Homo sapiens: one gene and its partners. The protein of the gene in region 1 interacts with the protein of each later gene in a pairwise test. Each region holds a gene or a part of one and is shown on either strand. Other genes may lie near its edges.

Evidence for each region.
Region 2: the proteins of ARC (region 1) and TBX18 interact in binary tests that used the Homo sapiens proteins (3 or more experiments, as listed by UniProt).
Region 3: the proteins of ARC (region 1) and SH2D4A interact in binary tests that used the Homo sapiens proteins (3 or more experiments, as listed by UniProt).

The regions. Positions count from the first base shown.
Region 1 is NC_000008.11:142,611,465-142,619,233, reverse strand, and holds the start of ARC (activity-regulated cytoskeleton-associated protein), read left to right. Parts: upstream 1-4,754; 5' UTR 4,755-4,962; coding exon 4,963-6,153; 3' UTR 6,154-6,750; intron 6,751-6,981; 3' UTR 6,982-7,126; exon of another isoform or gene 7,127-7,376; 3' UTR 7,377-7,769.
Region 2 is NC_000006.12:84,761,584-84,768,889, forward strand, and holds the start of TBX18 (T-box transcription factor TBX18), read right to left. Parts: upstream 3,016-7,306; 5' UTR 2,599-3,015; coding exon 2,307-2,598; intron 1,166-2,306; coding exon 961-1,165; intron 904-960; exon of another isoform or gene 758-903; intron 1-757. UniProt on the Homo sapiens protein: Acts as a transcriptional repressor involved in developmental processes of a variety of tissues and organs, including the heart and coronary vessels, the ureter and the vertebral column.
Region 3 is NC_000008.11:19,316,686-19,323,707, reverse strand, and holds part of SH2D4A (SH2 domain-containing protein 4A), read right to left. Parts: intron 4,365-7,022; 5' UTR 4,161-4,364; coding exon 3,980-4,160; intron 1-3,979. UniProt on the Homo sapiens protein: Inhibits estrogen-induced cell proliferation by competing with PLCG for binding to ESR1, blocking the effect of estrogen on PLCG and repressing estrogen-induced proliferation. May play a role in T-cell development and function.

The DNA.
Region 1 (7,769 bases):
GCCCCTCTACTTTCCCACCTCAGTCCTTTGTGCCTCCTTGGTCTTTTCCCCAGGCTCAGTCCTGGCCTGCTGTGCACCCCCCCATGCTCTGGAGGTGGACTGGGACCCTCATCCTCAGCTCTGCTCTCTGCCTACCCTGGCCCGTCCCCACTGCAGGTGGCCCTCAGGACGGAGACAGCAGGGCCCTGGTGTCCTCCAGCTGCCTGGACCCATATCCGCCAACTGCCCCTGCAACTCGCCACCAGGTCTGTGCCACCACTGCAGGAGCGACACTGGGGGCGGACGCTGGCCAGGCCTCAGAGAACAGAGGAGGTGGGCAGGGCGAAGAAGCCCCCAGAACCTCTCCTGAGGAGCTGAGGGCGGGGCCCCGGCCACTTCTCAGGCTCCAGACTGGCACTGACGAGAGGCTCCGGCAGGAACGGCTGGGAGAAACCTCGCCAGACCAGGTGGCACGAGGCCAGGGATGAGGCTCCTGGAGCCCCGGAGCTCCCGGCCACCCCTCGAGGCCTTGGCATTGCCACCCACTTTACGGATGGAAAGCTGAGGCTCAGGTGAGCAACTGTCCAATGTTTCCTGACTAGAAAGGAATGGAACAGGAACCATTCCAGCCCTCAGACCCCTCGCCAGTGTCTGCTCTGGACCAGGCCCTGCTTACACTCAGGTGTTCACCTATGGGCACCACCTGTAGGGTGGTGCAGGGACTCAGCCAGGCCAGGCAGCTGGGACAGCCTTGCCCTGTGCCTGCGAGGAAGAGGCAACAGGAAAAGAGGATACCTGGGGTGGGAGTCCAGCCTGGGAGCCCAGCGAGGTCAGAGGTCAGCAGCTCCTGCAGCCTGTGGAGCCCTGGGCTGGACAGCAAGGGACACCCGGTGGGAGCAGGTGGCTGAGAGGCTGGCCTCCAGGTCTGGCCATGCAGCCTGGGCAAGCAATGGGCACCCTGAGGGCATAGGGCAGCCTGGTTCTTCTCTTCCAGCCCCACCGGGCAGTAGATGGTGACAGATGAGGCCACAAGGCTGGGGAGTGGTCACATGTGGGGGGCGGGTGCCCGAACCAACCCCTGGGACTGCCTCATTCCTTCTCTGCTGCCGGCTCCTCACTCCACGCAGCCCACACAGAAGGGCAGCAGGAGCCCCGGAATGTGTGCAAAGGGTGGGGTGGGCAGGTGTGTGTGGCCAGCAGTGGGCAGGTGAGGAAGGGCCTTTATGAAGACAGTGATGTGGGGGGCCAAGGCAGAGTTGGGGGCCCTCTGGGTTGTTTCCAAAGAGGACAGAGCCTGGAGGCAGGGGAGATGGGGGAGGTGTGTGCCTCTGCGTGTGCCCATGTGTTTGCGCATGTGTGTGAGTGGGGGTGGGTGTGAGCTCTGGCCTGAAGGGGCCTGTGGTTGCCTCTCCCTGCTGAGCAGCGCTAACTGCCGGCACCCGAGATCAGCAGGGCCAGCCTGGGGGAGCAGCAGGATGCCCCAGGTCAGCAGCTGCCCTGTGAACGCTCCTGGCAACCCAGAAAGGCCCTGCCGGAGTGGGTCAGCCAGGGCTGAGACAGTCTGGGGCTGCGGGGAGAGAGCTGACTCCCTTTGCTCTGATCAGGCAGGAGCAGAGGCGGCTGGGCACCCCAGAAGGAGAAGGGAGGCCCAAGGCACAGGGTGGCCCCTGCCTTTCAGAGCAGGTACCCGCACGCCTCTGGGAACCTAGGTGGTGGGGGCTCAGGAACCAGCACTAAGAGGTCCTTCGAGGCTGTCGTGAGCCTGGTGGAGATCTCAACCGTGAACAGAACCTGGGGGTCATGGGCTACCCCACCCTCCCCTGCAGGACCCCTCCTCTCAGGCAGGTGGGGCCTCAGAGTGGTCAGACCTGCGCAGCAGCAGACCAGGTTGGCTTTGAGAGTGGGGATCCCCCAGGTGCTCCCAATCTCCTTGTGCAGGTCTAGCCCCCACCCCCTTCCCCTGTTCCTTCCCCCACCTGCATCCCCAAGCCATGCTGCTCCAGTGGCTGTCAGGGACGGGCACGGGGTGGGGGTGGGCTGGAGAGAGGAGCAGGGCAGGCCCCTGTCAGGAGAGGCCCCCGCCCCAGGTGGATGGGAGTCAGCCTGGCCTCCTTTCCCGAGGCTGCAGTGCGGGGGTTTGGTGAGGGCTTCTGGGGCGATAATTGGGCAGCGATTAAGCGTTCCTGGCAGCTGCGGCTGTTGCCTGTCACCGGTCAGCTCAGGCCTGCATTCACAGCCTCTGCAGACCCTGCTGGAGGGGGTTGGGGAGGGGAAGACGGGGCTCCGCGTGGCACCCCCGACGCTGCCTGCCCTCGTGCCATCCAGGGCAGGCACTGTGCTCTCCCACCGGTCTCGGCTTGGCCACTTCTGGCTTGCTGTTTAGCAGGTGACAGGGGTGGTGATGGGCCACGGGGCATTGAGCAGAGGACGCCAGGATTCCTCACCAAGGGCCTGGCTCCTGCCCAGCCCTGCCTTGCTCACCGGGCCACCTTGGGCACTCACCCTTCTCCAGGCCTGGCTCCCTCCACACAGGTGAGGGAACTGAGGCAGCGGCACCACCTATGACCTTGGCTCACGTGTCCCCAGTCCTGCCTCCTTGTCAGCTTGCTGATGCCTTGGGTGGGGGTGGCAGCTGGAGGCCACTGCTGGCCAGAGGCCTAAGAGCTGTGCCCTGGCGGGGACGTCAGAGGCCACACGGGCTTGTAAACCCTGGCGGGGCTGGCCCCTGGTCATTGAAGTGCTGGCTCTCACAATGGACACACATGCACGGTCAGTGCCCAGCACCCAGACAACACCTACAGGCTCAGGCTGGCCCCAACCCGGACATGTGGCCCTCGGTGACCGCTGGCTGCACTCACCCAAGGCTGCTGGCGTCTGCCCGTCCCGCATGTGCCCACCCAGCTCCTCTCCCTGGGATTCCGCAGTGGAGAAGCGGGAAGGTCCCTGTGCTGGAGACTTCTCTGCCTGGCTCCCCCTCCCAGCTCCGCGGTGCCCCTCCGCCCTCCCTTCTCTGTCCGCCCACTTACCTTTAATTAGAAATGCCAGGAGAGCCATTTTTGGGGAGTTTTTTTGCCAGAAAGACATTCCCCCCCAGGGGCGGAAGGAAGGAGGAGACAGACTGGCTCTGAGGCTGGGAGAGGGCTCCCCGGGAGAGCCGGTTGGGGGGGGGCTCAGAGGGTTGGCAGGGAGGGGGGATTCCAGCAAGTGGGCACCTGTGTGCCCTTGAGTGCCTGAATAAGACAGGGGATGCTGGGGGGAGCTGAGGGCTGTGAGTGGGGGGTATGAGTGTGTATGTGGGAGCTATGAGTGGGGGGTATGAGTGTGTATGTGGGAGCTATGAGTGGGGGGTATGAGTGTGTGTGGGGGCTGTGAGTGAGGGCATGAGTGTGTGGGGTGGGGTTAGAGTGGGGGCTATGAGTGTGTATGTGGGGGTGTGAGTGTGCAGCATGTGTGTGTCTGAGAGAGGGAAAGGGCAGCTGGCAGCAGGAACAAGATGTCTTGATTGTCAGCGATGATGTCCTCATGGCCCTCTGGCTGTGGGGAATGGTGTGTGTCACCCCTGCCTGGGTAACATCAGAGGACCTGAGACCCATGCCTATCCAGCCAGCACTGGAGTAACTCAGGAAGGGCGTCCCTACCCCCGCCAGGTTGCCAGGGAGGCAGAAGGGACCTCCCTCCCGAGGGAGTCTCGGCTTCCGGAGCCCCGCTCCTTATATGGTGCTTGGCTTCCCTCTGCCTCTCCTGATGGCACTGTGCTGCCAGCACCGGCCCCCCTCCCTCTCCCTCCTCGCCTCTCCTCCCTCCCCTTCTCCTTTCCCTCCTTCCACCTCCCTCCCTGTCTCCCTCTCTCCTCCCCTCTTCCATCCCCTTAGAAGTCTTGGAGCCTCTGGCCAGGTTCTTGATATAGCCAGGGTCTTCAGGGCCCAATTCCCTTCACTGGGGGCTAAATGTCCCCTCCATGTCCTCCAAACCCCAGCCCCCCAGGTAGCAGCTGCCAGATTTCCCTGGAAACACAGAAAAGTATTGGGCCTCACCAGAGACCTGCGTATGGGGGCATGGGGCAGCCCTGTCCAGTCACTGCCACGTGGGCCCCTGTCACCCATGCACACCAACGCCAGGGCCAGGCAGAGCGAGCCTCTGCCTGGCTGTGCGTCCCTCACACAGAGCCCAAGACCTGGACTCAGGACCCGGGCAGGAGTGAGTGGGAGCTCAAAGCCACATCTGGGAGCTCACATGGAGACTTGCTGAGCCCCTGGGCACAGAGGCTGATGGTGAGGGTCCTTCCCGGGCTCAGCTGCACATCCTGCAGAGCTGGGTGGGCGGGGTCAGGGGCAGTGAGGACCCAGGAGAGCAGTGGCCAGCGCCAGCCCCCTCCAGCCCCGCAAAGAGAGAGGCGAGTGGAGAGGAGGAAGGCCACCTTGGGACCCTGGGAGGCAGCAGATGACAGCCCGCCCAGCGCCCGGGAGGGGGCGTGGGAGGGGCGCCCAGTGCCCGGCTCAGTCCCTCGGTCCCCGCAGGCTGAATGAGCCCCGCCGTCCGGGGTGGGAGGTACGGAGCGGAGGGATTAGTCATCCTGGCCCCGCCATGTGTGCAGGGGGTGGGACCTCCCGTCCCTTGCCGCCCGGGAGCCGAGTGGGCGCAGGGCGGGGCCTGCAGGGGCGCGGGCGGGGCGCTGGCGGGGAGCCTGCGGCTGGGCCAATGAGAAACCGGGCTCGGCGAGCCGGCCGCCCACGGGCCTCGCTGGCTGCATAAAGAGCCGGCGGCCAGGACTCAGCGCAGAGCTCGGGCGCGGCGTCCTCCCTCCGCAGCAGCCGAGCCGGACCTGCCTCCCCGGGCGTGCTCCGCCGGCCCCGCCGCCGGCCCGCAGCGACAGACAGGCGCTCCCCGCAGCTCCGCACGGGACCCAGGCCGCCGGACCCCAGCGCCGGACCACCCTCTGTCCGCCCCGAGGAGTTTGCCGCCTGCCGGAGCACCTGCGCACAGATGGAGCTGGACCACCGGACCAGCGGCGGGCTCCACGCCTACCCCGGGCCGCGGGGCGGGCAGGTGGCCAAGCCCAACGTGATCCTGCAGATCGGGAAGTGCCGGGCCGAGATGCTGGAGCACGTGCGGCGGACGCACCGGCACCTGCTGGCCGAGGTGTCCAAGCAGGTGGAGCGCGAGCTGAAGGGGCTGCACCGGTCGGTCGGGAAGCTGGAGAGCAACCTGGACGGCTACGTGCCCACGAGCGACTCGCAGCGCTGGAAGAAGTCCATCAAGGCCTGCCTGTGCCGCTGCCAGGAGACCATCGCCAACCTGGAGCGCTGGGTCAAGCGCGAGATGCACGTGTGGCGCGAGGTGTTCTACCGCCTGGAGCGCTGGGCCGACCGCCTGGAGTCCACGGGCGGCAAGTACCCGGTGGGCAGCGAGTCAGCCCGCCACACCGTTTCCGTGGGCGTGGGGGGTCCCGAGAGCTACTGCCACGAGGCAGACGGCTACGACTACACCGTCAGCCCCTACGCCATCACCCCGCCCCCAGCCGCTGGCGAGCTGCCCGGGCAGGAGCCCGCCGAGGCCCAGCAGTACCAGCCGTGGGTCCCCGGCGAGGACGGGCAGCCCAGCCCCGGCGTGGACACGCAGATCTTCGAGGACCCTCGAGAGTTCCTGAGCCACCTAGAGGAGTACTTGCGGCAGGTGGGCGGCTCTGAGGAGTACTGGCTGTCCCAGATCCAGAATCACATGAACGGGCCGGCCAAGAAGTGGTGGGAGTTCAAGCAGGGCTCCGTGAAGAACTGGGTGGAGTTCAAGAAGGAGTTCCTGCAGTACAGCGAGGGCACGCTGTCCCGAGAGGCCATCCAGCGCGAGCTGGACCTGCCGCAGAAGCAGGGCGAGCCGCTGGACCAGTTCCTGTGGCGCAAGCGGGACCTGTACCAGACGCTCTACGTGGACGCGGACGAGGAGGAGATCATCCAGTACGTGGTGGGCACCCTGCAGCCCAAGCTCAAGCGTTTCCTGCGCCACCCCCTGCCCAAGACCCTGGAGCAGCTCATCCAGAGGGGCATGGAGGTGCAGGATGACCTGGAGCAGGCGGCCGAGCCGGCCGGCCCCCACCTCCCGGTGGAGGATGAGGCGGAGACCCTCACGCCCGCCCCCAACAGCGAGTCCGTGGCCAGTGACCGGACCCAGCCCGAGTAGAGGGCATCCCGGAGCCCCCAGCCTGCCCACTACATCCAGCCTGTGGCTTTGCCCACCAGGACTTTTGAGCTGGGGCTGACTCCTGCAGGGGAAGCCCTGGTCCAGCTGGGTGCCCCCTCGAGCTCCGGGCGGACTCGCACACACTCGTGTCATCCAGATGTGAGCACCGCACCCAGCGGCAAAGAGCCCTCCCCCCTGCAGGGCTCCACCCATCACCCTCCCTCCGTCTGTCTTTCCGGCCTGGACCCCACCCTCCACACTCTCAGGCCATCACAGAACACCCCAGCTTCCTCATTCTGCTACAACACCCAGGCCCTCTGGACATCCAGAAAACCAAGTGTCCGGATGGCAGGGGCCAGCGGCCACCAAGCTCATGGGACACCCAGAGCAGAAGCTAGGGCAGAGCCAATGCTGAGGGAGCCTCGACTTCCGGCGCCGCCGCCCTCTCCCGGCATCCGCAGAGCCAGCTGACGCCCTCCCTGCCTCCCAGGGCAGCTGGCCAGCCTCGGGCAGCGCGGCCCCCTCCTCCCAGGGGAGAGTAGAAGTCGCACACGCAGCAGAGCAGACCTGATGTCCCGGTGCTTCCTGGCCCCTCAGGTGAGCCCCTGCCCCAAGGCAGTACCGGCTGTGGGGCATCTGAGAGCTGGCGGGATCCGGAGGCTGTTTTCTAGGAGAGCCCACTGAGGCTTGGGCCCCCAGCAAGTTAGCCAAAGGGATGGGGTGGGGCTGGCATCATGGAAGGGGGCATTGGGGAGAGTGGGCCGGGTGGGAGGCAGGGGCAGTTTGCTGAGCCAGCTCTCACATGGACCCGCGCTTTCTCTCCCCCAGCTCCAGTGATTCACGCCCGCCTGGAGAAGAATCAGAGCTCAGCTCATGACTCACCCATGGCAGGCGGAGGGTCCCAGAGGGGCTGAGTCCTCAAATCCGGCTGAGGCAGCAGCTGGCACCATCAGAGCCAGGAGAGTGACAACAGGTAACGGAGCACCACCCTTCCACCCAGACCCCACCATCAGCTGTCCCGGCCAAATGAGCTCCTCCCCAGACCCCAGACACCCTGCGGCCCAGGCCACTCCCCAGTGTTCGGGCTCGCTGGGAGGCTCTGACGGGGTCGGGGGGCCTCTGCCTTGGAAGACCAGCGCCATCCACCGGCCCCAGCCCCTCCCCATGGAGCCCTGGCTACTGTCCTGCGTGGTCCTTCACTGCCCACTCTCCTGTTCTTTCAGGTCTCAAGGTTCCCACAAAGTCTTTGCTGCTGTGCTGGGCACCACCCACCCCTCACCTTGCAGGCTGCCTGCGTGGGAGGCGAAGTCCCAGGACAGCCCAGAGGGGGGCTACAGAGAGGAGTCGGCTGCAGCAGAGGGCAGGAGCCCCAGCTTAGCCCTGAGCGCCAGCGCGAGGACCAGGGCCTGCCACTAAGCCCGCCCCGCTGGCCGCCAGCTGCCCGTCCCCAGAGCCACTGCAGCAGGAGTCGGGCCCTGCCTCCCTCCCAGCAGGGAAACCCCGCCCGCTGCCAGGCCATCCTCTCTGCCAGAGGCTTTCATGAGCCCCAAGGCTGGGGCCACAGCTCCTACCCCTGCCCAGCAGCCCTGAGCTCAGCTGCAGGAAGGACATCCCAG
Region 2 (7,306 bases), on another chromosome or scaffold:
ATGCTATCCAGGTTTTTACCATGTGTACTCCCTGAAAGAGTTGTGTGTGCTTTCTAAAGTTCCGTTTAAGGAAGCTTATTATTCATAGATTTCACTGCACTAAATAAACTGAAAACTTTAAAATGCAAATATTCATGTGCCTACCTCAAATTAATATGATCTGCCCAACAAATCCATTTATTTTACTAACCAATGGATGGGAAAATTTCACACTTTTTAAAAAACCGATGTACCTTTTTATAAAAAATTTTTAAGTATTCCTCAGCAAATTCAGGCTGTGTTGGATTCCATTTAGGACAAAAATAAATAAATAAATAACCAGGTACTCTAAATCTATAAACAGGATGCTTTTTAAAAATCAGGGTAATTATTCTTGCACCTATACATGATTAAACATGTATTGTGGGTGAGTCCAGTGACTTTTCCTCCTAGTCTAATATGAAATAGCAGGACAGATCATCTTATCAAATTGCCAGGATATCTTCTGATAAAGAACCAATCTGCCTGGGAGTTTCAAATCTGAAAAAGCAAATCATAGTTTACTGGAGTAAACTGCTGTTTAAAAATAAAAGAGAAAGGAAAAAAAAAAGAATGTTTCCTAGTTCCAGAACTGACAACTAGAGCCTAAATAAATACCTGGACAAGGGTAAATATGACCTCAAATTTATAACCGCCCTGAACGCAGAACATCAACCGCGACAGCTGTGGCATCAGCGGCGACAGTAATTTTCTCCCTGGCATTCAACCAGAGGGCAGTTGGACTGTGCACCGACTGCACTAGTGGTGGGTAGCCAAAGCTAGCCTCCAAAGTGAACCACGGTCTGGGGCCTGGTCCCGTTTGACCGAAAATGCTATCCAGAACCCCCACCGAGCTGCAGGCCCTTCTTCCTGATTGAGCTAGAGGTGAGTGAAGACAGGGTCTGGGGTAGGGAGGGGCGTCCACGCCAGCTTGCCCATTACCTGCCGGCCTTGGTGATGATCATCTCAGTGCCTATCTCATGAAAGCGCTTCCAGAGCTCGGCTCCCTGCAGATCCACCCGCGGGGCCTGCGGCGAGGGCAGAGGGGTCCCGGGCCGGGCCAGGGAGCGCGCCGGAGACCCCTTGGGGGAGCCTCCCGGTGACGCCAGAGGGGAAGCTCCCTGCTGGAAGCCGTCCTCACAGCCGCCTGGACAGCAAAGGACAGAGAAAGGGAACTGGTGAGGGAAACAGAGGGGAAGCCAGCCGCGGAGACGGGCCCACCTGGTGGCTGAGAAGAGGAAAATGACCGGGAGAAAAGGGGAAGCTTTGGTGCCATCAGGTCCTCCTAAAGAACAAGCCAGTCGATAGACACCCACATTCTGCCTGTCGAAGGGGCGCATTCAGAGCTCCAGTGTGGCCTGCTTGGTCCCCAAGTCCCAAGCCCGGGAGAGGCGCGCGGGCAGCGTCCACCCCACCCGCTGGGCCTCCGCAGGGCCAAGGCCCCAGCAGAAAAGGCTTCACGCCGCCGCCGGGGTCTGGGACGCTTGCCCGACGGAGTCAGAGGAGCTCCCGGGTCCAGAGTCCCCAGTGCAAACTCCGACGCAACCTGCGCCTCGAAGCGCAAGCAGCAAAAGCGCCCGGACTCTGGTCCCAAGAGCCTGGGCCTCCTTAAGCCATAAGCGTCTGCGGCGCCTCGCTTTGGGCCTTCTTTTGGGCCGGGCCGGAGGCATCTTCTAGAAGGCTCTTCAGACCCCGCTTTCGCCAAACTCCCGGCGCCCTGCGCTTCCAGCCCAGCAGAGAAAAGTGTGAAAAGCAAGCCCGCGGTCGCCGTCGGCCTTGGCAGAGAAATCAAGAGGAGAAGGGAAGGGAACCGCTCAACTACCCTTCGGGAAACCAAGTTTCCAAATATGCCGCCCTCTTCCTGGTTTGCACAAACGGTTTAGGGCATTCGTTCCGGTTTCAGGGTGGGGTATGCCGTCGCTCCCCTCCTCCCCGCCCTGTGCTTTTAAAAGTTAGGAAACAAAAAAGAGCACCCATTGGCTGGAACCCCAAGGGAGGCAGATGCAGGAAGCACAGAGCTGCACCGCTAGGCGCAGCAAACAGCCGCGGCCGAAGGCGCGGGTCGCCGAGTGGGCGGCGGCCGCCCGCGAGGCGAGCCTGGAAGCAGTATCTGAACCGTCTGGAGGGTGACCAGGTTGCGCGGCGAGCTTTGCGACTGACACGGCCAATGCGCTAGTGGCTGAGTGGCCTTGGCCATGTAGGGACGCGGCGCGCACGCACACCCACAGACTCGCAGAAGTTCAGGTTCGCGCCGGAGAGAAGTTATAGGCAGGAAGGGGCCCACTCACCCGCGGCTCCGCGCTCCAGGTCTGCGCCACTCCGAGCCGGCCCAGACGTCGCCCCAGCCGGCGGCGGGAGCGCAGCGCCTTCGTCTCCCTCAGAAGAACCCTTTTCGCCCGCGCCGCCGCCGCGGCTGCAGCCTCCGTCGTCCACGGCCCCCGCCGCCTCTTCGGCGCCCAGTTTTCGCCGCTTCTTCTGAAGCTGTTGCTGCTTCTCGGCGCCGATCAGCGCCTCCACCGAGAAAGCGTGCGCCTTGAGGCTTAGCATGCTGCACGGCGAGCCCCTTCGCTTCTCGGCCATCCCCCCCGCCCCGCGCCCGCCCGCCCCTCTCTCATATACACTCACGCGGGCACACGCGCGCTCTCGCTCTTCCCCCACCAAAAACTAAAAGGCTCTCGGGGCCTCCCGAGATCTGCCCCCTTCCCCACCGCGGGCAAAAAACAGATTTGGCGTTTCCGCTTTCTCGCTTGTGTTGGGATCCAGGAACCGGCGACGCGCCGGCCAAGTCTCCTTTCCTGGGTCTCTCTCGCGCGCTCTCTCACTGATGCACTCCTTTGCTCCCACCCCTTCCACCTCCTCCTGCTGCTCCGAGGTCTGCCTCAACTGATGCGCCAGAGAGGACTAACATGGGTAAAAAACACTCTGTGGACACAAATTAGGGATTGTAATTGAAATTTGTTGCCTTGATCTGTCAGCACTTCCAGGCAGGAGAGCGGTGGGAAGAACTTGCTCATTAGTGTCAATAAAGCGGCGGGGGCGGAGCCCGGGTCCCTGTCCATCACCCAGACGGCCGGCCAATCAGGAGGCGCCGACTCCGCGCAGCCCGCGCCCACTTCCTTACAAGGTAGCGAAAAACCAGGAGTGAAAAGCGCCGCTGTCTGGCTTGGATGTGCCAGCCACACGGACGCTGAACTCTGTCTCTCTGACGTCCGTAGCTGAGTCCAGCCCCGTAGTCTCCAGCTTTCCTCACCAGGACCTGGAAAGGCGGAAGTTCCCGGCTTTAAACTAGACGTTCAACAAGTTAGAAAATCAGGAATCTTTCAAGGTTCCGTAAATTGCCGTCCCACTTCCGTATCGCTTAATGTTGCTACAACTCAGAATATTGGGAAGCTGGGAAGAATTCGCAGGCCCCTCCTTTCTCATTTAAATGTTCCTGCACTCAGTCTGCGCCAGATATGGCTTAGGCTTATTTAAACTTTACTCCGTGATTTTTTTCTTAGGGGATACCAGGTTAAGAAATATGTAAATCCTTTAGGAGTGCAAAATGTTACGTTAACGCTCAGTCCGTCATATAAATGTCAGAAAAAGCACGCCCTTTCCGCAGCCCACCTTTTCTTTCAAAGAGTGGTAGTTATTTTAAAACGTAGGTCATGGGATTTTCATTCTGTACGTCTTTAACGATATGGACAACTTTAAAACCCCTTAAAACTTCGCAAAATGAAATAAGTATGAAGACGCAATAAAATTCCCCATTTGAAAAACTTCTCTGTGATTTAAGTAAGTTTATATTTGTCCTACTGTTGACAATTTACAATCGTTACTTCAGGCTTTTAAGGAGTCCATTGATGTATTTAAAACAAATTTAATAAAATCAGTGCTTTTTAATTAAATGACACCAAACATATATATTTGTACAATTTGTTTTGTAGTTTCAACTCGACTTTTTGTTAGGATTAACAAATATATATATATATGTTTGGTATAAATAGAGCAAATCTCTTGTGGAATAAAATTAATCGTGCATATTACTCCATCTTTTGTATAAAATACACGGCAGGCCGGGCGCGGTGGCTCACGCCTGTATTCCCAGCACTTTGAGAGGCCTACGCGGGCGGATCACGAGGTCAAGAGATCGAGACCATCCTGGCCAACATGGTGAAACCCCCGTCTCTACTAAATAAATAAATAAATACAAATAGTAGCTGGGCGTGGTGGTGCACGCCTGTAGTCCCAGCTACTCGGGAGGCTGAGGCAGGAGAATCGCTTGAACTCGGGAGGCGGAGGTTGCAGTGAGCCCAGATCGCGCTACTGTACTCCAGCCTGGCGACGCAGCAAGACTCCGTCTCTGTCTCTCTCTCTGTCTCCATATGTGTGTGTGTGTATATATATATATATATATATGACAAAGGAATTTTTTCCTCTCCCTCGTCCCTCGTTTAATTCAATCTCCGCAACCGTTGGCTGCCCTTTTATCTCTGACTTCTCTGTAAACTTTCAGTAGAGTAGCATTTGGGGGTAGATCCGCCACTGAGACTGATCCTTTTATTGTAGAAGAGAACGCGCGGTTCCTGGAGGCCGGACACCACAGCGGGAGTAGGAACCTGGCAGGCGATGAGCAGAGGCACGAGCAAGCCGCCCAGCCAAACCTGGCAGCCTTGAGGTCAAAAATGATTTTGTAATATCCTTGCGGAGGAAGCCTCTTTTAGACGCCTGAGAAACAAACTCAGTTGGGAGGAGGTGTTTTGCATTTTACAAAATGAAGGCTTTGCGACCGGTTTAGAGCTGTGTGGTCCCTAGTGGGTCTCCAAGCTCCGGGGTACCCTAGGCCGGTATTACATCATTAAAAAGAAGCGCAAATCCCATTTCTGAAGCTTAGCCGAAGGCAGGCGCCGGCAGGGAGAGCTAAGAGGCCGCCTAGAGAGTTTGGGCCGGGAGTGGGAGTGGGACAAGGCGGGAGCTAACTTAGCTGGAGTAGACGCCAGAAGAAGTTCCGTTCAGCTGAGGTGCCCCGCCCCAATCCCAGGCTCTCGGGGACCCCAAGAAGGGAGCTACCCGGTGCTTCTCCGAGCGGTCCTTACAGCTTTGGAGACTCTGCTGCTGCCCAGGGGTGTAGTCGTCGGAGCCCTCGGGCCTGCTGGGGCTCAGCAGGGGTAGTGGGAGCCCCTACCCTGGGAGAAACTGCCAGGGACAAACACTGTTTGCTGACGCAAAGCCTGTTCCGCAAAGGAGTTCTCCCTGTATATGTCCTGCAGCTCAAACTGATTTAGAAAGGGATACACAGGCCTGCAAGGCGCTCTCGGGATCATACAGCCTCACGCCCTCTTCTTTTCCTCTGCCATTTCTTTATGTCTTTCGCCTTCACCCTGGGCAGCAGACCCCAGCAGGCGGGGAAACCCGGGGACTGGTGTCCGCATTGCCGAAAGGCTGGAAAGCAGAGCCTCGTCTACATCCACGATGTTTCTAGAACGTGGCCCTTAGAAATAATTCAAGTGTGAGTAGGGCGCCGAGGACAGGACAAGGCGTTTGCCCCCTAGTCCTGCTACTGGCTAAGGAGAATCATAGCAGTAGAGCCGCACCACTGCTGCCGCCGCCTCCAACTTGCGTTAAGTTCGGCTCAGGCTACTGGATTGGGCAGGACCAGCTAACCCAGGTCCCGAGGGGCAGTGTGTCACAGACTGCAGCCCACTCCAACCTCGGCTCCTGGAGAAGGGGCGTCGAATCTCTCTTGGGCATGGGAGGGAAAGACATTCCGAGTTGGCTGGGCGGAGTGGCAGCCTTGAGAGTGACGAGTGACAGCAAAGCCTCGTCCTAGCAAGGCCTTTTACCAACAGCGCGGCATGCCCTTTCGAGGAGAGCGCCAGGCCCTCGCACTTTGCAAGTCAAGAGAGCAAAGAAAGCGGGGACAGGGCGCGTAATCGCAATGTCCGGTCGCGCGTGTGCACGTGTCTGTGTTTGCATGTGTGCGTGAGCATGTGCACCTGCTCAAGTGTAAATGTGTCTGTTGGCAGTTGGGGTCTAAGTACCTGAGAATGTGTGTCTTCTGTTGCTTTAGGAGATTAAAATGTCTTTTCCCAGTATTGAGCTACATTGAGGAAACAAAACTGAAATAAACTGTCAGGCCTCTCTCAAGACCAGCCGGATTCTATGTTAAATAAAAGTCAGCCAGAGGAGAATATTGTCAGAATGAATTAGTCTCAAGGACTTGGGGAGAGAGAGAAGGGCAAAAGATCCTTGAGCTCCCAGATCTGGGACAACGATATACAGTGGAATCCATGTCCTGCCGGACAGCAACACTAACTGGTGGGAGGGGGCGTGCAGGGGCGGGAGATGGACTTTTAAAAAGCATATCCGGTCTCTTCTTTATTTTTCTTGGTGCAGTTTAAAATTGGACAGTTCCGAAATAGTGCTTTTTTGTTGTTGTTGTTTTAAACTCATTCTCTGTCGGCTTCCACTCTGCTTTTTAGCCTGGAGCCTGTTTACATAGCATTGATACATGGCCAGTTGTGTATAGTTTGCTATTTCATCTTACCTGATTTATAAGATACTTACATTTTATTTATAAACAATTGTTTCTTTTTTAAGTTATAATTGTTAAAGCTCTATGCGTCCGGTCTTCATTCCTTCGAAAGATTGATTTTTTTTCTTTTACACTTGACACTCGCTGTATTTAACCCCTATATTTAATTTCTCAGACTCGATAAGGTAAGCCCTGAGTCTGTTCAGACAAGAATCTGTTCTTTGCCCCTGATCTCAGGGCACATCAAATGGTCCCCGAGTCTCCAAATAATCCGGACCCAGACTTCTTTGCCACACATAGAGAAGTTTATTATTAGTAAAAGATGAAGTGAGCTAGAAGCAGAAATGGGACGGAGAGTATGGGTGGGCAACGGCCAAATCCAAACACCAAGAGGGGTACTTATTTGGCTGCGTTCCTCTATAGTTTAATCTGGGAAGGAGCCATAGCCTAATTGGAGACCGTGAACATCAGCCTACGCTGAGTCACCAGGCAGCGCCGCACAAATGGGCTAGGGCTTCCCCTTTCCGCGATTCCTGTCCCTACTCTTTCCCACTCTCTTTCTTCTCTTTGCACATACTTTTCTTCTCGCCTCTCCTTCGGATCTGCGTTAATGAAAATATTTTATCTTGTACAAGTTTATAAAGCCTACGGTAGTAAATTCAGGCGTCCCAGGGCTCAAGGACTGCACTCTTGCGGATTTCTCTGCCGGGTCTGGTGCTGCAGATGCAAACCCAGGCCCCGTGAACAAAGCGATCCGGAGCTGCAATTCCT
Region 3 (7,022 bases), about 120 Mb from region 1:
GTAGCCACATTAAAAAAATCAAAAGGAGGCCGGGTGCCCTGGCTCACACCTGTAATCCCAGCCCTTCGGAAGGCCGAGGCAGGTGGATCACCTAAGGTCAGGAATTTGAGACCAGCCTAGCCAACATGGTGAAACCCCATCTCTACTAATAATACAAAAATTAGCTGGGTGTGCTGGCGCACACCTGTAACTCCAACTACTTGGGAGGCTGAGAAAGGAGAATCGCTAGAATTTAGGAGGCAGAGGTTGCAGTGAGCTGAGATCATGCCTCTGTACTCCAACCTGGGAGACAGAGCAAGAGACTCTGTCTCAAAAAAAAAAAAAAATCAAAAGGAACAGGTGAAATTAAGTATTTTACTTTACCCAAGATATACAAAATATCATCAGTTCCATATATAAGGAATATACAATTATTAATGTGGCATTATCTTTTCCTTCTACCAAGTCTTTGAAATCCGGTAGTTTACATGTATAGCACACCTCAATCCAGACTAGCCTCATTTCCTGTGCTCAAGAGCCACATGTGGCTTGTGGTGACTGCACTGGACGGTGCGGCTGTAGACCTCTAGCTACCCCAGCAAGCAGAGTAGATCCATACGTCTCTCCCTAAGTATCACATTCTCCCACTACAGAAATCAGAAATGATCTTCTCATATAGTACTAAGTTAAATTCACATGCTGATAGTTTTTCAGCCCCTTCTACTTCAGCCTTCAGATTACTAACAAGTAGACAAGTCGGGCACGGTGGGTCATGCGTGTAATCCCAGCACTTTGGGAGGCGGAGGTGGGTGGATCACTTGAGGTCAGGAGTTCAAGACCAGGCTGGCCAACATGGTGAAACCCTGTCTCTACTGAAAATACAAAAATTAGCTGGGCATGGTAGCAGGTGCTTATAATCCCAGCTAGTCACTCAGGAGGCTGAGGCAGGAGAATCGCTTGAACCTGGGAGGCAGAGGTTGCAGTGAGTTGAAATGTCACACCACTGCACTGCAGCTAGGGAGACAGAGGTTGCAGTGAGTTGAAATCTCACACCACTGCACTGCAGCTTGGGAGACAGAGCAAGACTCTGTCTTTAAAAAAAAAAAAAAAAAAAAAGAATAATAGACAAGTTTCTGTGATGCACAATACACAACAATTTTAGTGATGATCCCCAAACACTAAGCACAGGGGTCTGTGTATTCGTAGTGAAAAATGACCAGATGACAATGAAGGAACTTCTAAGTGATAAGCTAGAGGGGGTCAAGGAATGGCAGGGGTGGCCTATGATGTTTTTAATGAAATGAACAACCTTCAAAACCACCGTGTGGCTAAGAACTGCTAAGAAAAAGCAGCACTTAGCTCAGTACTAACCAGAAAGGCGGGAGAAGGGGAGGCAGGGAGCACAAGCCTTCAGGGATCAGATGCACGAGTGACCTGTCAACCCACAAGGGTCATGGGCTTAGCAGGTCTGCAGCACAGATAAGCACCTCTGGCAGCACCAGCCATGACAGCATTGCTTTGGACGGTCTATGGCTTTATCTTCAAAGACAGCGCAAGATGAAAGAGAAGTGATGGGATTTTAGGGGAAGTGGGAGTAACTTTTTCCCTTTCTGTAGTCAGAAGAGGAACTAATTTAATGCAAAATATATTTTTCCAAGTTTTCAATTTAAGGGAGTAATACACTTTTGACGTGAGATATTGATAGAACTTTCCCCACTTATATTAACATACTTTTCTCATGATCATTTGACTAACAAAGTTAACACAGGGTTTCTGAGAGGTAGATTCAAAACCCTACAAGCGAGAAATGTAAGCAAAGAAACTGAAATTATTATTTTAAGTCATCACAAGGAGACCAATTCAGCAAACACGAGAAACCCAAAGTCTAACAGAGTCTGGGCCATTGACTCTAGTGGCAAGAACCCTTTGGCTGCTAGTCCCCAAGGTCACCCCATCACACTAATATATGTTATGTTCACAGTGAACATGGTGCCCAGAAGAGACCCAATTATATCTGAAAAACTCTGACTGGGGAATCCAAGAAGGTGCATAAACCAGTTTAGAAAGAAAAAGAGTTATGTTTCAGTTTGGCCATGTTATTTGTTGGAGGAAAAGTTGTATTTTGGATAGTGCAGAATAATGTAAAATCCAACAGAACTGGGCATCTATTGGTGGTATAACCTTGCATATATTACTCAACTTATCTAAGTTTCATGGCCAGCTTCAGTGGCTCAGGCCTGTAATCCCAGCACTTTGGGAGGCCCAGGTGGGCAGATCGTTTGAGGTCTGGGGTTCAAGACCAGCCTGGCCAACATGGAGAAACCCCACCTCTACTAAAAATTCAAAAATTAGCTGGGTGTGGTGGCACATGCCTGTAATCCCAGCTACTTGGGAGGCTGAGGCAGGAGAATTGCTTGAACCCGGGAGACGAAGGTTGCATTGAGCCAAGATTGTACCACTGCACTCCAACCAGGGCGACAGAGTGAGACTCCATCTCAAACAAACAAACAAGCAAAAAAAAAAATGAACTTCTCTAAGTCTCATCATCTGTAAAACAGGACTGTCACTGCTGACTTTGCAGAAGTTTTGTGAAGGTTAGGCATTATATGCATAAATGTGCTTCACATAGTGTCTGAAACAGGAGGTGTTTCATAAATAGTTGTATTGATCATAACAAGAGGAAATGACATATTTCTGTTTATTTCCTTGTCATGATAAAGGCATCACTGGAAAAAAGTTTTAATAAAAGACAGTAAAAAGTAAAGGACGCTACACTGACCTCCTTTGTGAACCTGGGCATATACCAGGGATGCAAGAGAGATTCATTTTCTCAATCTTTGAAACCATATGTGATTTTACAAAATTTTATTTTCCTGGTTTAATGAAACATGAAAAGAGACGGTCTTAGATGCCTCTGCAAGTGACCTTGAAAAGTGTGCTGTGTTTTCACAACTTTGGTATTCACCCATGACAGACTTCGCATGTAAACAGCAAGGCGGGGGTGTGGGGGTTAGTGAGAACGGAGTGAGGAGGGTGGACAATGTGTATTTTTCTGTGTCTGTATGTGTATATGCTTTAAGTCTTTTTTTTTTTTTTTTTTTTTTTGACACACAGTCTCACTCTGTCACCCAGGGTGGAGTGCAGAGGTGTGATTTCAGTTCAGTGTGGCCTCGATCTCCTGAGCTCAAGCAATTACACCACCTCAGCCTCCCAAGTAGTTGGGACTATAGGCATGTACCACCATGCCCAGCTAATTTTTTATTTTTCCTAAAGAAAAGGTCTCACTATATTTCCAGGCTGGTCAGAACTCCTGGACTCAAGTGATCCTCCTACCTCGGCCACCCAAAGTGCTGCAATGACAGGCATGAGCCACTGCACCTTGTCTGCTTTAAGTCTTAATGTACAAAGATTTCCTCCCCCATGGTCTCAAAAGAACCCTCTCAAACTACCAGAGATTCCTTTGATAACGAGGAAAAGTTTACATCTGAGAAACTCATTCACACTAAAAAAAGATAGTATTATGATTTTTTTCCTTATAGCAATTCCTTACATTTTAACAGGAGGTGTTCCCTAAAAAGATACCTCAAAGAAAAATCTCTGAGGTCTAAGAAATGCAAACACAATTGCTATAAATATACTGACACAAGAACTTTGTGTTCTAGTAGTAGCATATTAGGAACCAGTAACAATAAAGGAGATAGAAACCTTTCTTAATACCCCTCAAATCAAACCTCATAGGTGACTTTTTAATACAGCTTCAGGTTAGTCTGGTTTCAAGTAAAAGATTTCCTCATAGCTATGCAACTCCATGGTGAATGCTGTGTGTGTGTGTGTAGACTTCAGGTGGACATACTGCACTATTAGATTCTCAATAACATTTAGGATTCATCTGCCAAACTGGAACTTGCACCTGCTTTGCTTGTGACTAGTGTGAAATTGTCAAAGCAAGCCAGGAGCTGTTCTACCAACACATCCACAGAAGAAACGTGGATAAGTTTACCTTTCTTTGGTCTGGGTTTCACTGGCAGGGACTCCTTTCTTTCCATAGCTGCTTCTCTTTCTTTCCATCGTCGGATCTGTTCCTCTCTCATCTTGAAGAACAGGATCTGTTTCTGTTCTTCGCTGAGCTCTGCCAGTAGATCAGGATCTATGTACATCTCCGACAGTATCTGTTTCAGCATCTTTGCACTTCTGAAGTCTTTTATACTTGTGGCAAAAGTTCCTGAAACTGGCCTCCAGGTGTCCCTCCACCTGTGCTGGCACTTGGGCGTTTCCACGAAACTTCCCAAACAGCTCACAATCCTGGCTGACTGGGACAATAATTCAGCAAACTGGCTACTCAGACCTGGCACCAAATGTCCTGTCCAAAATGCTGTTCACTGAACCTGCAGAGAGAAAGAGCCCACATTCAGGCAGCGTGTTAAAATGTGTGGACACTGGCTAGGACGGGTTTAAAAAAAAAAGCTAGGAGGAAACACAGTATCACTTTTCAGTTCAGAGAGAAAAGAGAAGAAGAAAATCTGAGGCACACTTTGTTAAGAGTTTGTATAACCTCTATCCTGTAATTTCTAAAGATACTCTGTCAAAAAAAAAAAGAAAACAAACCCTAACTTTATACAGGTCAATCTCAGGCAAACAAAAAAAGTTCACAGAGGTTTGTCCAGCTCCCAACTAAGCAAACACATTATTACCCCAGAGCCTAACAAACCACCAACTGTGTGGCTGAAAAAAGAAAGAAAAAAAAAAGTCACAGGAAGAAATTAAAAGGCTCTCTGCAAAGTACCTATTTCAAAAGAAAATACCACTTTTGATATGTCACAGAGTAACTCATCCCAAACCAAACCAAAATAGAGCCATGCTCAAGGAAGAAAAAGGAAGAAATAAAAACTAGACCACCATGCATTTTCTGCAATTTCCCTAAAAAGTAGCATTAAATAAACAAAATTATGTACTTTCCTCTTCACAAAAGGATAATGTAATTTCCAGATAACCTACTAGAGCCATGAAAATCAGGGCAGGTGCAAGAGAGAACATCCATCTACATTCTGGAAGGTCACCGAGTTTTAGGTGTGCTTTTTCCAGATAACCTAGTTTAATAAAATCTAAATGGACAGACCAGATAAACTAGGGGGATGAAGAGGTCATTAGGTTCATAACAAAGGATCCTTCATTTATATGACTTTACCGCATGGCTCCTTGAAAGAGAAACCATAAAGCGAGAGTGCACAGTGGCCTCCTAGAAGTTCTCCTGTGGTTGGAAATCCTACTGAGGTTTCATTCTACTTTCCACATTTCTATTTTAAAATATTGGCTTAAAAATATTACCACACTGTCATACTTTCTCTCTCTATTTTTAAACAATTTCTAAGTCCCATAAACCATCATACTTTTGTAATCAGCAGGAAACTATGTAAATATATCTATTCTGGAAAACAAAAGACTTTGGATTCGATGTAATAAGATATAAGAAAAAAAACTTACTACAACTTTTCAGAATCACATGTGTCCTAAGAAATTGACCAATAGGCCAGGCGGGGTGGCTCACGCCTGTAATCCCAGCACTTTGGGAGGCCAAAGAGGGGGGATCACGAGGTCAGGAGTTCGAGACCAGTCTGACCAGTATGACCAACATCTCTACTAAAAAAACAAAAAATACAGAAATTAGCTGGGCATGGTGGTGGGTGCCTGTAATCCCAGCTACTCAAGAGGCTGAGACAGGAGATCGCTTGAACCTAGGACGCAGAGGTTGCAGTGAGCCGAGATCGCGCCACTACACTCCAGCCTGGGCAACAGAGGGAGACTCTGTCTCAAAAATAAAAAAAGAAAAAAAAAAGAAATTGACCAATAATTTGTTATTTATAATAACACCTCAATAATCTTACCACCTTGCCATGTGCTCTCAAATACGTTGTTTCTCCATACTATGTTCAAACAGTCTTAAACTTCAGACAAGTCACTTAGCTATATTATGACCATCGTAGTGTTGTTGGTTTCTCTTCGTTCACCTTGTCATTGATACAGTTAGATTTGTAATGCCCCTCTCACCATCTGGGGGCCTCCTTCAGCTTCCCGTCTTCCTCCTCTTCCGTGCAAAGTAGTTCCTTGATTTACACCTGTCTTTTGAGACAAGCACGCTCAACAGCTAGGCTACCACAGAGTGGTGTGCATACTCAGCTCTTAGATTCGCTGACTGTTCATTGTGAAGCCAGGCCCTTGATGAAACTACACCTATCCCTACTGACTGCAACCTATCATCTCGGCAGCATTCAACTACCAGAATCCAAATGGAACCAAACATTAAGAGAAAAATTTTAAAGGACTAAAAGTAATATCACGCCCTTCCCAGATCCACTTGCCAACTTTGTATTTTGCATTGAGATACCCTTAAAGGCTTGAACAGCCAAAAAAAAAAAAAAAAAAAAAAATGGATGTCTTGTCAAGATTTCTTGACTTTTGACTTTTTGTTTCTAGCAGCTTCTCAAAGGGTGGAGCCAATGAAATCCACAAGCTCCAAGATAAAGTGGTAAGAAAGGAGACAGAATGACTCCTTGACATTCCAGTAAATGTCCTTAAGTTCAATGGTTGGTTTTCGCAGAAATCACACACGGCAGAAGATGAACAGTTCAGCTGGGGTTGAGACTTCTGCTGTGTTCCCCATTTTGAATGCAGCGAATCCTATTCAAGGCATGGGTAGATCCTAGAATCTAAAACCCTTAAAGTGTCAAAGTCATATTCCTCCAGTCTCCCCCGCCCTGCATATTCCTGATAACACAGCTAACACTTCTTGTACCAGGCACCATCTTAATTAAGCACTCTACATGTGTTAACTCACTTAATCTTCACAATAACCCTTGGAGTCCAGCCCATCACTATGCCCATCTCACAGATTAGGAAGATAGAGCACAGGTCAGCAGCTGGTAAGCGGCAGAGCCGGGCAGTCCAGCTCTAACTCAGCTTCACTGTAATACACAACACAGAGGCCTTTTTGTGAGTTTATTTGTGTGCCCAGAATCAGAACAGCAGGATGTGGTGCCATGTATGAA